Regions from separate parts of the Homo sapiens genome. Here region 1 is linked to region 2. The links come from fine-mapping of genetic effects on gene expression. Tissue or cell type: esophagus mucosa. Region 2 holds a variant in brackets; the other region holds the start of a gene. All regions are shown on one strand. Distances are from middle to middle.

Region 1 (8,189 bases), 34 kb after region 2:
AAATGTCCATATCTAATTTTAACAACAAATGATTCATTAGTGAATATTAATAATTCTGCAATTATACATACCACCCACCCACCCAAAGCCCTGTGAATTGTTTTGGGTGTAATTTTCTGATAGCCAGTGGTTTTCAGCAGATGGTCCAATTCTTTAAAATATAAACTGAGCTGGGCACAATGGTGCATGCCTGTAGTCCTAGCTACTCCAGTGAGGCGGGAGAATCATTTGAGCCCAGGAATTCAAGGCTATAGTGCACTATTATCACATTTGTGAATAGTCCCTGCAATCCAGCCTGGGAAACACAGGGAGACCCTGTCTCTAAAAAAAAATAAGTAAATAAAATAAAATATAAACTGAATAAAGAAGTAGCTCAACTTAATGAATGTACGGAGTGCCATATCCCCTTGATTATTTTGTACATTGTGCAGTGATCTGTCATGCCAAGTCAGCCTCTGTGGTGAATTCTTTTCCATTTTTTAATTTTTTGTCAAATACCAAATAATGATTTCCTTTACACATTATTCACATTTTAAAAGCTTTTATTTTAGGTTCTGGGGTACATGAACAGGTTTCTTATACAGATAAACTGCATTTCATGGGGGTTTGGTGTACCAATAATTGTGCATTTTATTTTATTTTTTTGAGACGGAGTCTTGCTCTGTCGCCCAGGCTGGAGTGCAGTGGCGCGATCTCGGCTCACTGCAAGCTCCGCCTCCCGGGTTCACGCCATTCTCCTGCCTCAGCCTCCCAAGTAGCTGGGACTACAGGCGCCCGCCACCACGCCGGCTAATTTTTTGTATTTTTAGTGGAGACGGGGTTTCACCGTGTTAGCCAGGATGGTCTTGATCTCCTAACCTTGTGATCCACCCGCCTCGGCCTCCCAAAGTGCTGTCACCTAGGCTAGAGTACAGTGGTGAGATCATGGTTCACTGCAGCCTGGACCTCCTGGGCTCAGGTGATCCTCCCACCTCAGCCTCCCGAGTAGCTGGGATCACAGGTATGCGCCACCATGCCTGGCTCATTTTTGTATTTTTTTGTAGAGACCATGGTTTTGACATGTTGCTCAGGCTAGTCTTGAACTCCCAGCTCAAGTGATTGGCAGCCTTGGCCTCTCAAAGTGCTGGGATTACAGGCATGAACCACTGTGCTGGCCATGAATTATTTTTGTGGTGTATTTAGCTATGCTTCAGAGATTCAAAACCCAGAAGCATATAATTCAAAAGAAGTAAACTGCTGGCTTTAATTTTAATGAGCTGTGGTAGAGTGTGAAATGGTGTGATTTTCAAAGGCAATTTCAAGGACTGTTTTAGTATCAAAGATATTCTTCAGAACAGCCTAAGTGGCTTTGCTTATCATGTGACTCTGGATTCCAGTCTGTTTTGGTACAAGGATTTAGCAAAGTCATGATGTTCTCAGATGCTGGGCATGCAAGTGGTTATAAAAAAGGTCAAAACTCCAGGACAATTCAAAATATTTTACACTTCCAAGCTTAAAATTTCCCACATCTTTCTTGTTACCAAAATTTTTCACATTTGTGAAAGCAAAGTCCTCATTATCTGCACCAAATTTTGATCCAAATGATTGAGATATTGCAACACATGATACTACATTATTGATGAGCAGATTTTTAAAAACTTAATAGTAACTTAGCTACCAAAATACTCCATCAAATGAAAGCCATCACCAACAGATATGTAGTAGAATGCTCATAGTAGCACTATCTATAATGGCTCTAAATGGCAAACTGCCCTAATGTCCATCAGAAGAATGAATTCATAAATTACAGTATATCCACAGAATGGAAAACAAAATGAATGATCTACAACTGCATACAACAATATGGAAGAATCTCACAAGTGTAATGTTGAGTCCAAGTAGCCAGAAACAAAAGAACACATACTTTATGGCTTTATATATAACAAGTATAAAGATAGGCAAAACTACCTATGCTGTTGAAAGTCAGCATAGAAACTCCCCTTGGAAGAAGGCAGTGCCTGGAAGGCAGGTTGATGGGGTTCCCAGGTATTAATAATGTTTTGTTCCTTGATCTGGGTGCTGGATACAAAGGTGTCTGCAGACTGTGAAAATTCATTGAGCTGTCTACACTTAGGATATGTGCACTTTTTAAGACACATGTTTCAATAAAATTATTATTTTTTTAAATTCCACGCCAGGTACAGTGGCTCATGCCTGTAATCCCAGCACTTTGGGAGGCTGAGGTGGGTGGATTGCTTGAGTTCAGGAGTTCAAGACCAGCCTGGGCAACATGGGGAAGCCCCATCTCTACAAAAAATATAAACATTAGCTGTGTATGGTTGAGCGTGCCTGTAGTCACAGCTACTTGGGAGGCTGAAGTGGGAGGATCACTTGAGCCTGGGAAGCAGAGGTTTCAGTGAGCTCAGATAGCGCCACTGCACTCCAGCCTGGGCAGGAGTAAAACCCTGTCTCAAAAAAAAAAAAAAAAAAAAAAAAAAAAGAAAGAAAGACAAAAGAAAAAAAAATCCAGGAAGTCTATGAAAAGACATCAACTCAACATAATATTACTCAAGGTTATTACTATAATTTGTGAGCCGTCAATATGAGAGTCACTCTCTAACCTGGTTATTAAATGCACTGGATTCAAAACAGTTGTCCCTGGCCTAGAATAACTAAAATGCCAAATCAAGTTAATTATTTATCTTTAAAATCTCTAATCTCTCTGCTCTTCTCTCCCTTCAGTGATATTGTCATAGTTTAATCAAAGTCATCTTCCACCTTAAATTTCATCTGTCATCATCTCCTAATCAGTTTCCCAATAGCTTATTTTAACTGTTCTTTGCACACTAACCAAAGTGATGTAAAGTCTAAACCCAGACCCTTTCACTTCTTTTTTTCGAATGCCTCAATAGAAGCCCATTAAATTTAAAATGTAATGCCAACTCCAAGCCCCTGTCTGCCTCATCTCTCTCACATCATGCTGTTCTTTCCCTCCCTCAATATGCTGGAGACACTTTGGCTTTCTTTCTGTTCTTCCAAAACGCCGGGCTGTCTCACCGAGAGACCTTTGTCTGCTGTCCCCTCTGCCCAAAACAATTCATCATTTTATTGGTTCCATGGCTGAATGACTGATGGTTTAAATGCCATCTTATAAAGTTCTCATATAACAATCTTATCTGAAGTTATCCTCCAGTGTCCACACCATGCCTATTTCTTTCCTTGACATGATTAATTACTATTCTATGTGCTTGCTTACTTGTTGGTTTTCTCCCTCTTCTTTGTTAGACTGAAAATTCTATGAGGGCAGCTATCGTGTCTAGCTGTGTTAGGGGCGTATCCCCAGTGCCTAGCAAATGTATAGCATACAAGACGTCCTTCAATAAACACAGAAATACTTGTTTAATGAATTAATAGACATTCCCTAAAGATCACAAGATACCTGTTCAGCCACGAAGAAGACTGCACTGTGCACTGCTGTTCAAAGACATGGCAGTGAAATCAGATGCCTTTCAAACTCTAAGCCTAAGCAGTATTGGCATTCCGTTCTCGGTTTCCTGGCTGTCACAACTACAGTCCCTTAGCCCGAAGCGAAACCCCCTCCGCGCTCCGCCCGCTGGCTAGGTACCAAGTCTCGCGGCCCCACCCACCGCGCAAGCGCGCCCCCTCTTTGGCTGGGGAGCTAACCTCGGGAGGGCGGGGCGCCGCCGCGAGCCACCACTGGCACAGGGTGACGTCGCTCCGCCGCGCAGCTGGAAGCCTGCGAAGTCAAATAGCAGCCGCGGGGAGGCTCGTTCCCATCGGCATCTGTGACTGGCTGCGATCGAGGGCCCGGGCGGCCGGCCAGCCGTCTCGCCGAGTGCGGACTGGCCGGATCTGCTGTCAGTCAGCGGGAACAGACTTCTCCCTCTCCATCTGGTCAACTGCGGGAGAAAAATTTTCGAGAATTTCCAGCAGGCAAGGCAGTGGCCGCTTTGACTGCTTGCTTCGGAGATCCGAGACGACGGAGAAGGCACTCTTATTTACCGACCAAGAAAGCTCCTCCCCCGTCCTCCGTTAGCTAATTAAAACATTTTTCAGGGACGTAGCCATCCAGAGGTAAGAGCCTAGAGAGTGCAATTCATTTATTTCTGCTAACCATGTATGCTGTTCTTTATTGGCGGTCGCGGAATGGAGAGTAAACGGAGAAGGGTTTCCCGGGAGGTCGAAGGGGAGACGTCGGTTTCCGTTCCCCCGCCCCCCGAGTCGGCGCTTGGCCGGCGGCCTCTCGGAGTTCTCAGAGCGTCGCTTTCTTCCCTTTGGAGGTCGTGAGCAGCTCGTCGGGGTGAGGCGGGGCCCAGCTGGGCTGCCTGCGCCCCGGGCGGCGGGTTTCCAGCCCAGACTGCGCTCGGCCTTGAATGTGGCCGCAGGCTGGAGGGCCAGCGCGGCGCGAGGCGGGCAGGGTGGGTGGGCTGGGACTGGAGACCCTTGCCCGAGGCCCCGGAAGCGAGGATGCTGCGGGGTGGGTGCCGCGTTGCCTCCCGGGCGAGGGAAACGTGGCGACAACGGGCTCGGTACGCCCAGAGGGAGGTTGGGAGGCGGAGACCTGGCGGCAGAAGGTGCCGAGGGAGCCCAGCTATTTGCGAGGCTTCGCAGGCAGGCGGGCGTGTGTTCTTCCCACCGTGTGTCACCCTGACCACCCGCCTGTCAGGGCCAGCGAGCCGAGGCCAGGATCCTGAGCTGTACCCAGGTGAGCTTTTCAGGAGGTCCGGCATCGTGAAGGATGCACAGCCCCGGCTGGTTTTGATCCGAAGACTTGGGTTTTACTTTGCGCAGGGAGCGCTGTAGTACTCAAGGCGTTGTAGCTGGTGATGTCTTTTTCAGCAGCCGCTTTCTGTAGATGAGGGAATTCACCGGATGTGACAAAGAGGCTCCAGGTGGAAATAGCCAGGGAATTTGCAGTCTCAAAAGCTCCACGGGCTTTTCTGAGCCTCCCACTGCTAACGTGCAGCAAGGCCTCATCGGTTCTTTCCGTCAGGGCGGAGGAATGAGGCTGTCCTTCGGTTTCAGAATGAGCGACTAAAGTGACAGATTACAATGACGATGAAAAAGAGCAATGAGACCGGTAGCAATGGCTCACGCCTGTGATCACAGCACTTTGGAAGGCCAAAGCGGGCTTGAGCCCAGGAGTTCGAGACCAGCCTGGGCAACACATCGAAACCTCGGCTCTACAAAACATACAAAAATTACCCGGGCGTGGTGGCATGTGCCTGTGGTCCCAGCCCCGGAGGCTGAGGTGGGAGGATCTCTTGATCCTGAGTGGTCGAGGCTGCAGTGAGCCGAGATCGCACCACTGCACTCCAGCCTGGGCGACAGAGCAAGACCCTGTCTCAGAAAGAAAAAGAAAAACAGCCATGGTTTGTGGTGTTCTGGTTAGGCAGCTGTGGCAGGAAGAAGAGCAGCACGTGCGTGTGTGTGTGTCTGATAAAATACCTTAGTTACAATATTTGAGTAGTGAGTTCTCGCTAATAATTTTTTCTTGCAACCTTAGTCATTACTACTGATCACCCAGGCAAATTCCTTGACTGCAATCCTTAGAGACGAGGAAAGAAGAGAGGAGAGTGGCTGGTGACATAATAGACTGTGAAGGAAAGTTCTTAAAGGCATTATAAAGTTACAGGTTTGGGATATAGTCTGTGGCTTGTATGCATATTTACTAACGTGTCTTAAAAGATATCTATGGGAATAGAATACTGAGTACTTTTCACTGCTCACATTTCACACTTTTCTCCAGTCACACATCTGAACATAGACATATTCACATTAAACCTAAGGGGAGTCCTTTGGAGTTTTTATTGTTGTTTTCTTTTTTCCCCTCAGGTAAAGCAGTAAATTTTCTTTCCCTTCCTCCTAGCAGGGTATTGAGAAAGAAGGTATTGGGGTCCCAATTAGCTGAAATACATTCTGGAAATTTCCATACTATTTGAATTTACTGGGATGCCTTAATTGATTTTCTAAAAAGGTCGATAGGTAAATATTTGGTTTAAGAATATTTAAAAGGGCTGTGTTCTCATTGTGGAAGTTGTAGATACCTAAATGCCACTTCATAATGGGCAGATAGGAATGCTTTCTTAAAATATTTTTTCTAGAGGGATAAAATCTAAGCAGGTTTCAGAACTTTAGAACTCCTGAATAATTTTGGCATGTGCTTAAACTGCCCTTTTGACCTGCTTTTAACATACAAGAACAGTTTAACTCAAATCCAGTGCACCTTCCTGCCAGAGAAAGTGCTTTCCTTTTGGATGACTTGACTTCCAAAGATTGAATATAATGTTAAAATGGTTTATAAAAATAAACTAGCCATGTTTTCCGATCAAAAAATTGACCTAAATCTCCCCTGCTTACTTAAAAAGATTCCTTCTCTCTCTTAGTTTGTGGAATAATGAACTCATCCCAATTTTTAATTGCTGAACTGACAAAAGACAATCCTTAGGTGTTTGCTAGTTTGTTCTCCACTCTTTTTGTTTAGAGAACACTGATTGCTTTTTTTTTTTCCTTAAGGTTTTTGTTTTTCACATCACAAGTTCTACTCCCCTTGCCTTGCTGGTCAAAGCATAGTCATTCCCATGGGCATCGGCAGAGCTGTGGGGTCTATGATGGCAGATCCCAATTGTGGAGTTCTGGAGGAGGAAACTTTTCTTAATGTGCAGGTTTAATTCAAAGTTGTTATTTACTTTGGGAACTCCAGCTGCCTTTGAATTGTTTCTTAGGGAATATGGAGGGGATTGATATGATTTAGTTACATTGCAGATGGAAAAGGACATGGAGCCAGTTCGTAACATCTCGTTTACCTAAGCGATGCCGACCTGTTTGTTTGTTTTTTATAAACTAGCTATATATCTGGGTCACATTTCATCTCTGCCAATAATATGCCTTAAAGTAGGTGGTTTCCTATGACTGCCTGCTTTCTGAGATGATTATAGAAACAATACACGAGGAAGGATGCCAGGTTGATGATTGATTTTAAAATACGCAGGTTTTTAGCCTTACAGAAACTGCTCAATTTGCATTTTATCTCATTTCTTAAAAATGTTTCCAGTGGATATTTGTTCTCTGTGAGAATGCAGTTCTATTTTATTATTTAAAAAAAAATTGGGGGGAGGATAAAGAGGAGATAAAACGGCAAGAATATACTAGAACAGTTGCAGAAAAACTTCAATATTTATTTATTTGTAATTCCAGAACTCTGATTTAAAGTAGGTGCATGACTGCAAAGTAGCTCAAGGCTGAATATGGCATATATACTTTCAGACCGAAGCCAAAAGAATAGTATTTTGCTAATCTCAAGTTAACTCTTCAAATACAAATATTTTCTAATAATTGTATTTCTTTAAAGTTCTTTTTTTTTTCTATATGATATAAAGCTGCTTTGGGAATTATCTCCAAATAATTAGTACTTCCATTACCTGGTAGATTGTATTGTAGTTTGAAGTCTCAATTCATCACCTATAATTAACATAATTGGGTTTTTAAATTTTTTTTAACACACCATTGCTGGCTTGAATCCATAATTGTTGCTGAATAAAATCTAACTCTCAATTAGAAGCAAAAGAACAAACATCTCTTGCAATGGAATGTGTTATTTCTCTCTCTCGCTCTCTCTCTCTTTTTTTAAATAGACAATGTCTTGCTCCATTGCTCAGGCTGGAGTGCAGTGGTGTGATCTTAGCTCACTGCAGCCTCTGCCTCCCAGGCTCAAGCAATCTGTCCACCTCATTTTTGTACTTTTTGTAGAGACAGGGTTTCACCATGTTGCCCAGGGTAGTCTCAAACTCCTGGGCTCAAGCAGTCCTCCCACCTCAGCCCCCTTAGTAGCTGGAACTACAGGCATGCGGAACCACGCCTGACTAATTTTTGTATTTTTAGTGGAGACAGGGTTTTGCAAAGTTGCCCACTGGTCTCCAACTCTTGGCCTCAAGTGATTTGCCTACCTCGGCCTCTCAAAGTGCTGGGATTACAAGTGTGAGCCACCGGGTCCGGCCATGTTAATTCTCTTTGATAACCAGAGATGCTGTGTCTCTGCCACTCTCCAACCCCCCAACAATGTTGTCTTACGAAGAAATGAATTTCAGCCTTCTATGCAGGATCTTGGCCAAAAGGCCAAGAAGGGATGACTTCCTAAGTCTTTGATGATACATTACTTGTTTTGGTGGCCATCTTTATTCTAAATTCTG
Region 2 (8,189 bases):
TAGTCTCCTTTTTTTGCCTTTAAAAAATCTGCTTATAATACAGGCCAAATGGTGCTCATAACCAAGGCTACCTGGGTCTGAGTCTTCCAGGCAGCTCTTCCCACTTTGGCTCAAGTAAACTTTTAAAATCGTATTTGGTGTTAGGCCTCTTCCTTTTAGGTCGACGTGAAAAAGCTGTCTGAAACACCGTTAGGAAAAAAAACACTAGATCACAACACTAGAGAAAATATGTTTATATTAATGTAGATTATAGACATGAGGAGGAAAAATTTACCTCAAGAATGGCTTTGCTTTTGGAAAAACTTGTGAACTTCATCAAACTGTTGCTTGAGGCTACCTTGGGGAATGGGACCAGGGAAACATATCATTTTGACCCTATATGCTTTTTCACTGCAAGACCTCTTTTTTGGATGAGAATGTGTTAATTTTGTACATTTTTAAACAAAGTTTGTTTTTTTTTTAAATAGCAGGTTATGCATTATGTAGAGAAAATAGCTATGTTTGAAATGGAAAACTAGCAACAACCGTAGTAATAAAATATAAAGAAATATAGTAATCAAAAAGAAAGAAAGAGATTGCAGGAAGTCTGGAAGAGAATACATCCAAAATGTTAATGGTGCTTATATGTGACAGTAAGAGGAATTTTTTAAATTCTGTATTTTATGTTTGCTATAGTCAACATGGATTCTTTTCATTATCACGAAGACTTTTTAAAAATTACAACATTTACATACATATGATGATCAATTTTTTGTACTTTTATGATATTTGTTCCTACATGGGTCTTTAAACTTGACTAGATGGCAAGTTTCAGAATGCAAATCATAAATTACTTTTAGAACAGATCCTATTAAAAAAAAAAAAAAAGACAGGCCAAGCGCAGTGGCTCACGCCTGTAATCCCAGTACTTTGGGAAGCCGAGGCAGGCAGATCACGAGGTCAGGAGTTCAAGACCAGCCTGACCAACATGGTAAAACCCCATCTTTACTAAAAATACAAAAATTAGACGGGTGTGGTGGCATGCACCTGTAATCTCAGCTACTCAGGAGGCTGAGGCAGGAGAATCGCCTGAACCCGGGAGGTGGAGGTTGCAGTGAGCTGAAATCATGCCACCGCACTCCAGCCTGGGTGACACAGCGAGACTCTGTCTCAAAAAAAAAAAAGACAAAATCTTTGTCAGTGATGCATGATTGGTTTAGTTTCCTTTTCAAGATTATTTAGAAAAAATATTTAGCTGTGTACACGGGCTGCTTTCCAACATACAGGGAGATGCTGTTTGAATACTCCTGCAAAGTGTCTGAAAGCAAATATTTAGTAAGTATTTCAAAAGAATTTCAAACCTCTTCTGGCTTCCTATCTCTGTGGTTTCTCTTTTCAGTTGAATATCCCTGAGACACCACAAACAAAACAAGTGCCCAATCAAATCCACTGTCTTAGCTTCTTCACATTCCCAGACCTCTGTTCTCCTTCCACCTTTCCCTGAATTGAAAGCAGGGCTTGTTTGCTCCAGAAAAACAAACAAACAGAAAGATCTGCAGGGGACTTCACTTCTCCTAGGAGGGTGCTAGGCCAGGACGGCCACATTTCTCAGAACTAAGGGGAACAGAAACTGTCTGGTGGAAGGAGGAAGCTCTCAAGAACAGCACAGCAATAGCCCCGAGGAGCAGGGAGCACTTGGCAGCCAGGGTGAGTGTGAACTTTGAGAAGGAAGAAAGATGTTTAAAGGTGATTTGTAGGAAACTTTGCCCTTGTAAAGTGCTGCATCCCTCAGCCCCACTCCCAGGACAGCACTCCACCTCCATCTTCACCCCAGGCTTCAAACAAGGCAGTATAAAAACTGACTGTGTTTGAAGTCAGACTCCAACACTTAGTGGCTATATCACCTTGGTTAAGTTAGTTCACCTCTCTGTTCTAATTTCCTGAACTGATCTCCTCATTTGTAAAATGGAATATGGTCCTGCCTACTTTATGAGGTTTTTGTGAGGATTAACTGAATTAATCCATTAATATAACCAAAACAATGACTCACTATGATTCTAAGAGCTATTTAGCCATGCGTGAGTTAGCTATTGTTTTTCTGGGCTGTCAGAGTTCAACAGGTGCTGCTTTGAATGTACTTTGAGCAAACTCTAGCTCAAAAGGAATCTTGTAGAATTTGAGATACTATTTTGATTGTTACCATTATCCACTCAGTCACCCAATCACTCCTTTAACCCCTAGACTTAATCAAGCTCTGTTGATTCATACCCCTCAATAAGTCTCCTCTCCAGTGCCTCAATTTTTGCTTAGATCACTGCAAGAGCTACCAACATTTTTTTCCTTTCTTCAGCAACTTTCATCCTCGATGTGGAAGGAAATCAAGATATTTTACCCCAAAATATATTTCTTTGATATACTTTGAGATGACTGCCAGAGGGCCAGCAAACGGAATTGGCCCTACAAAGCTGTCTTTCCTGGGGGAAATTTACATCTGTAGAGAATCTATATTCATGCAGCCAGGATTCCCTTGTCAGATCTAGGAAAGATTAAGAGTCTGACACCTTTAGAGGTGAGAGAATTTGGTAAAGGTAAGAAGAATTTGTCATCTATTCTGTCTGCTACCCATGAGGTTTCATCTATATAATAAGGCCAACTTTGCTAGGCAGGCCTCCTGTTCTGTCTCTCTCATAACCTGTTTTGCCACTAAAGCCTAGTTTACCACCATAGCCTGTTTTTGGCTGTGCTCTGAATCCATATTCTTTCTGTAACCTCGAGGTGGAGGGCTTTCATTTTGAAGGCCCCTGTGTCATGAAAAACTATGATCAAATAAATTTGTATGCCTTTTCTCCTATTAATCGTCTTCTTGTTAAATATTTTCAGCAAACCTTCAGAGAGTGAAGGGGACGCTTTCCCTTGCCTTCAACAATGTCCTTCAAAATGGCACCAGATCCATATGCATTACTCCCCAGCCTAAGCCCCACTGCGTTTGATCAATAACCATTATTTTGTTTTCAACTCAATGTCTTACCCTCAAGTCCTGCTATTTCCCATCCACCTACCTCATCTTTGCCAGTATCCTCCTTGTACTGGCGTGACTCCAGTCCAGGTCCTTCCATGTTTCCTTTTCTTTCTTGGGGTTGATCTTTTCATGATTCTTTAACAAATCAGTTGCTATTAAGCCTTCATGACACTGATAAAAAATCTTCTCTTCTACAAAGTCTTTCTCAGCAATCCCAAGCAAAGTTAGTCATTTCCTCCTTTGTTTACATTTCACTTGATATATACCTTGTCTTTTCACATAACAGGTTGTGCTGGAATTATGTGTTTATGGGCCTCACTCAATGACAGGGACTGAGCATATTTCTTTGTTTGCCCAGAGCCA[C/T]CCCCACATGCCTGGCACATCAAAGATGTTTAATAACGATGTAGTGAGTGAATAATAAATAAATGGGTTAGTATAACATCTCAGATGATATTTACATTGTGTCGATGAAAACAGTCAAACTCTGTAAAATATTTGAAGAGATTTATTCTGAGCCAGTTATGAGTGACTAATGGCCCATGACACAGCCTCAAAAGATCCTGAAAACATAAGCTCAAGGTGGTTGGGCCACAGCTTTGTTTTATACATTTTAGGGAGACATGAGACATCAATTAATACATGTAAGATGTACAATGGTTCAGTTCAGAAAGGTGGAACAACTGGAATTGGGGGCTTCCACGTCACAGGCAGGTTCAAAGATTTTCTGATTGGCAATTGGTTGAAAGTGTTATTATCAATAGAAAGGAATGTCTGGATTATGATAAGGGTTGTGGAGACCAAGGTTTTATCATGCAGATAAAGCCTCCAGGTAGCAGATTTGAGAGAGAATAGATTGTAAATATTTCTTATCAGACTTAAAGAGCCTCTTATATCAGTAATTCCAAAAGGGAGGAGGGTATAATGAGGCATTTTGGCTCCCTTTTCTCATCATGGCCTGAACTCATTTTTTTCAGGTTAGCTTTGGAATGCCCCTGGCTGAGAGGAGGGGCCCATTCAGATGGTTGTGGTGCCTTAGAATTTTATTTTTGGTTTACAATTCATGGGAGAGTAAATATAGTAAAGGAGAGACAAACAGTATACAGGCTCCACCACTAGAGCATATGACTCTGGGCAAATTCCTTATGCTCTCTGTGCCTCCCTTTCCCCCTTGACAAAATAATGACAATGATATCTTTATGTGTATGTGAGCATTCAATTAATCAATAAATGTAATTATGTGTATTAGTTACTGTTGTTGTTGATGTTCATGGAGAGAGTATTACTGTAAACCCCAGGAAAGACAGGGACTTTGTTTTGACTCACCATTTAATTTCTAACATTTGTTATAGCATTTCTTGAGGAATAAGCACTCAATAAAGATTCAAGTGGGCACAGTGGCTCATGACTGTAATCCCAGCTACTCAAGAGGCTGAGGCAGGAGGATTGCTTGAGGCCAGGAGTTTGAGACCAGACTGGGAATCATAGCTAGATGGTGTCTCTACAAAAAATTCAAAAATTGGCCAGAGGTGGTAGAGTGTGCCTTGTGTTCCAGGTACTCAGTAGGCTGAATTGGGAGGATTGCTTGAGTTTAGAAGTTTGAAGTTGCAGTGAGCTATGATTGCATCACAGCACTCCAGCCTGAGTGACAGAGTGAGTGAGACCCCCATCTCTCGCTCTCTCTTTTTTTTTTTTTTTTTTTGGAGATAGAGTCTCACTTTGTTGCCCAGGCTGGAGTGCAGTGGCATAGTCTTGGCTCACTGCAACCTCTGCCTCCCAGGTTCAAGTGATTCTCCTGCCTCCGCCTCTTGAGGATTCATCTTATTAGGTAGCTAAAATTGGTAACATTTGCTGGATATGTCATTTATCAAAAAGTGATTGGGCTGTGGGTATTTGACCCTTAAGTATGAAATGCATGCCTTCTTCTGAGCCAGAGTTACCAGTTTGTTGACTTTTCAGAGTTTGTGACTTATCTGGAGTAGCTGGGATTACAGGCAACTGCCACCAGGCCCAGCTAATTTTTGTATTTTTTTTTTTTAGTAGAGACATGGGGTTTTGCCATCTTGGCCAGGCTGGTCTTGAACTCCTGACCTCAGGTAATCCACCTGCCTTGGCTTCCCAAAGTGCTGGGATTACAGGTGTGAGCCACCGTGCCTGGCCCCCAACTCTCTTAAAAACAAAAAAAAGAATTGTGAAATGAACATAAGTATAATAAAAAGAGAACATAAAAGAAGATAGAAATGCACTCACACACACAAAGGGCAAGTGAGAATGCATTTGTGCATCTGATACAAAGTACAAAACTGTTGTTAAGTCACCTTAGGTGCTCACCACTGTGGGATGACTAAGGGGGACAGTTCTGGAGGCTGGGAAGTCCAAGATCAAGGTACTGGCAGATTTGATGTCTAGTGAGAACCTGCTTCCTAGTTCCCAGTTTTCTCTCATGGCAGAAAGTTGATGAGAAAGCTCCTTGGGGTCTCTTTCATCAGGGCACTAATCCTATTCATGGGCGCTCCACCCTCACGAACTAATCAGCTACAAAAGGCCCCCACCTGCTAATACCATCACATTGGGGGTTAGGATTTCAACATACGAATTTAGAGGGGACACAAACATTTAGTCTATAGTACAATGTAAATAATGACAACTAAGAATACTCACATAGGCCAAGCATGGCAGGTGGCTCATGTCTGATATCCCAGCACTTTGAGAGGCCGAAGTGGGAGGATTGCTTCAGCCCAGGAGTTCAAAACCAGTCTAGGCAACATAGCAAGACCTTAGCTCTAAAAAATAAATAAACAAATAAATGAATAAATAAAAAAATAAGAAAAGTCAGCCAAATGTGGTGGTGTACACCTATAGTTCTAGCTACTTGGATAGCCAGTGCAGGAGGATTGCTTGAACCCAGAAGTTCAAGACTGAAGTGAGCTATGATCTCACCCCTGCACTCCAGCCCAGGTGATACAGTGAGATCCTGTCTCAAAAAAAAAAAAAAAAAAGAATACTCCCACGTAAAACTGAGCAAATTTTCTGTACAGTAAGTCCTCACTTAATGTCACCAATATGTTATTGGGAACTTCAACTTTAAGCAAAATAATGTATAATGAAACCAATTTTACCATAGGCTAATTGATACAAACAAGAGTTATGTTTCTATGGCATATTTCTGGTCATAGAAACATTACCAAACTTCTAAATAAAGACCTAAAACACTTCTAATATTAAACATTAAAATAAATAAATGTTTAAAGATAAGACAGGTAAATAAAAACAAGTAAGATATTTATTTATTTACCTGATTTTTGGTCAGTCAGTGAGTGACAGCAATAGTAGTGGTGGTGGTTAAATCAAAAGTATTTGCAAAGCAAAATTAGTAAGAGGCTCCTCCTACCACTACACAGTTAAAAAACAAACAATAACGAATATAGCAGGCTCACTGAGCACTTTCATACCACATCATTTATTGTTGTGTGTTTGTATGATTACCATATACTTTATGAATATTTATTTTATAATAACTTGTTTTCACTTATCTTCCAACCTGCTTATTCCAGTTCAGGGTCTTGGGTAGCTGGAACCTATCTCAGCAGCTCAGGGCGAGAAGTGGAAATCAACGCTGGACAGGCAGGACACCATTCCATCACGGGGCACACTCACACACACACCCACACTCAGATTAGGACATTTAGACACATCCACTCACCTAATGTGCACATCTTTGGGGTGTGGAAAGGAACTGAGTAGCCAGAGGAAACCCACACAGACGTGGGGAGAATGTGTAAACTTCACACAAACAGTGGCCCAGCTGGGAATTGATTTTTTTTTTCCTTATCAATGTCATAACACAATGACATTGAAAAAAAATGTTATTCAAGGACCTGCTATACTTAGTTTTATAATTTCACTGTATGTAACTCTGAACACCGTATCTTTCTTTAGAGTTCACTTAAGATTCATCTTATTAGGTAGCTAAAATTGGTGTCATTTGCTGGATATTACTTATCAAAAAGTGATTGGGCTGTGGGTGTTTGACCTTTAATATGAAATGCATGTCTTCTCCTGAGCCAGAGTCACCAGTTTGTTGACTGTTCAGGATCTCATCAAACTAGTTCTTTGCTCAGATAAAAAAGAGCTCAATGCCCAGATTGAAGCTTTAATTAGAAAGTTATGTTGAATCTTTTTGTAGCTATATCTTTGCCCACTTAGTTGATCCTCTCCTTAGGATAAATTTTCTCAAAAATAAATGCTGTGTTAAAATTTAATTGCAAGTTTTTATTTTTCTTCCTCAACATTTTATTCTGTAAAAGTTTTTTTAAAACATAGAAGTAAAGAGAACAGTATAATAATTCCAATGTACTCATCCATCACCCAGATGCAACAAACATGAACTCATGGCCACACGTCTTTCATCTGTACTCTTACCTACTTTCCCCTCACCTACTCACCAGCGTTTTTTGTTTTTTGAGACAGAATCTCACTCTGTCATCCAGGCTGGAGTGCCAGGGGCATGATCTCGGCTCACTGCAACCTCCGCCTCCCAGGTTCCAGTGATTCTTGTGCCTCTGCCTCCTGAGTAGCTGGGATTACAGGTGCGCACCACCAAGCCCAGCTGATTTTTGTGTTTTTAGTAGAGATAGGGTTTTACCATGTGGGCCAGGCTGGTCTTGAACTCCTGACCTCAAGTGATCCGCCTGCCTCAGCCTCCCAAAGTGCTGGGATTACAGGTGTGAGTCACTGCGCCTGACCCTCAGCAGCCTATGTTGAAGCAATCCAAGTTATTATAAAATTTCATTCATAGTATTTCAATATCTATCTCTAAAAGATAAGAACTATCTAACATAACAATGCTATCACTGCAGGTATACAAAGTTAAACATAATGCAAAAGGTCTGTGCATTTTAACGGTTGTTACATATTGCTACTGTCCCCTTAAAAGGGTACAGCAATTTGCCCTTACAGCCCTAGTTTATAGCAGTGCCATCCTTGATATTATCAATCTTTTTCATATCCATCAATCTATAGCTCTCAAAAATGATGTCTTGTTCCAACTCTCACTTCATTGATTGTTAATGAGGTTGAGCAACTTCTCATTTTATATTGACCATTTATATTTCTTCTTCTACAATTACTTATTCACATTCTCTTCTATTGTTCTATGCATCAATCTTATTTTCATATTGATTTATAAGTTTAA

What was found. PIP is the estimated chance that this variant, and not a neighbour inherited with it, causes the effect.
Region 1: it holds the start of PPM1K-DT, and the variant in region 2 is fine-mapped to the expression of PPM1K-DT in esophagus mucosa (GTEx, PIP above 0.99).

The regions. Positions count from the first base shown.
Region 1 is chr4:88,280,291-88,288,479 of GRCh38, reverse strand. PPM1K-DT (PPM1K divergent transcript) reads right to left here and starts at 3,550. Exons shown (of 5, transcript NR_134238.1): 1 at 3,419-3,550. It overlaps PPM1K (protein phosphatase, Mg2+/Mn2+ dependent 1K), which reads left to right and starts at 3,919. Exons shown (of 7, transcript NM_152542.5): 1 at 3,919-4,074. RefSeq lists a silencer at 3,557-3,776 and enhancers at 3,511-4,034, 3,947-4,036, 4,077-4,136.
Region 2 is chr4:88,314,275-88,322,463 of GRCh38, reverse strand. It overlaps PPM1K-DT (PPM1K divergent transcript), which reads right to left. Exons shown (of 5, transcript NR_134238.1): 3 at 5,657-5,778. Among named protein-coding and RNA genes, the nearest start is that of PPM1K-DT, 33 kb to the right of the region's middle. RefSeq lists an enhancer at 1,546-1,625. The variant C/T (reference allele first, on the strand shown) is at 3,362.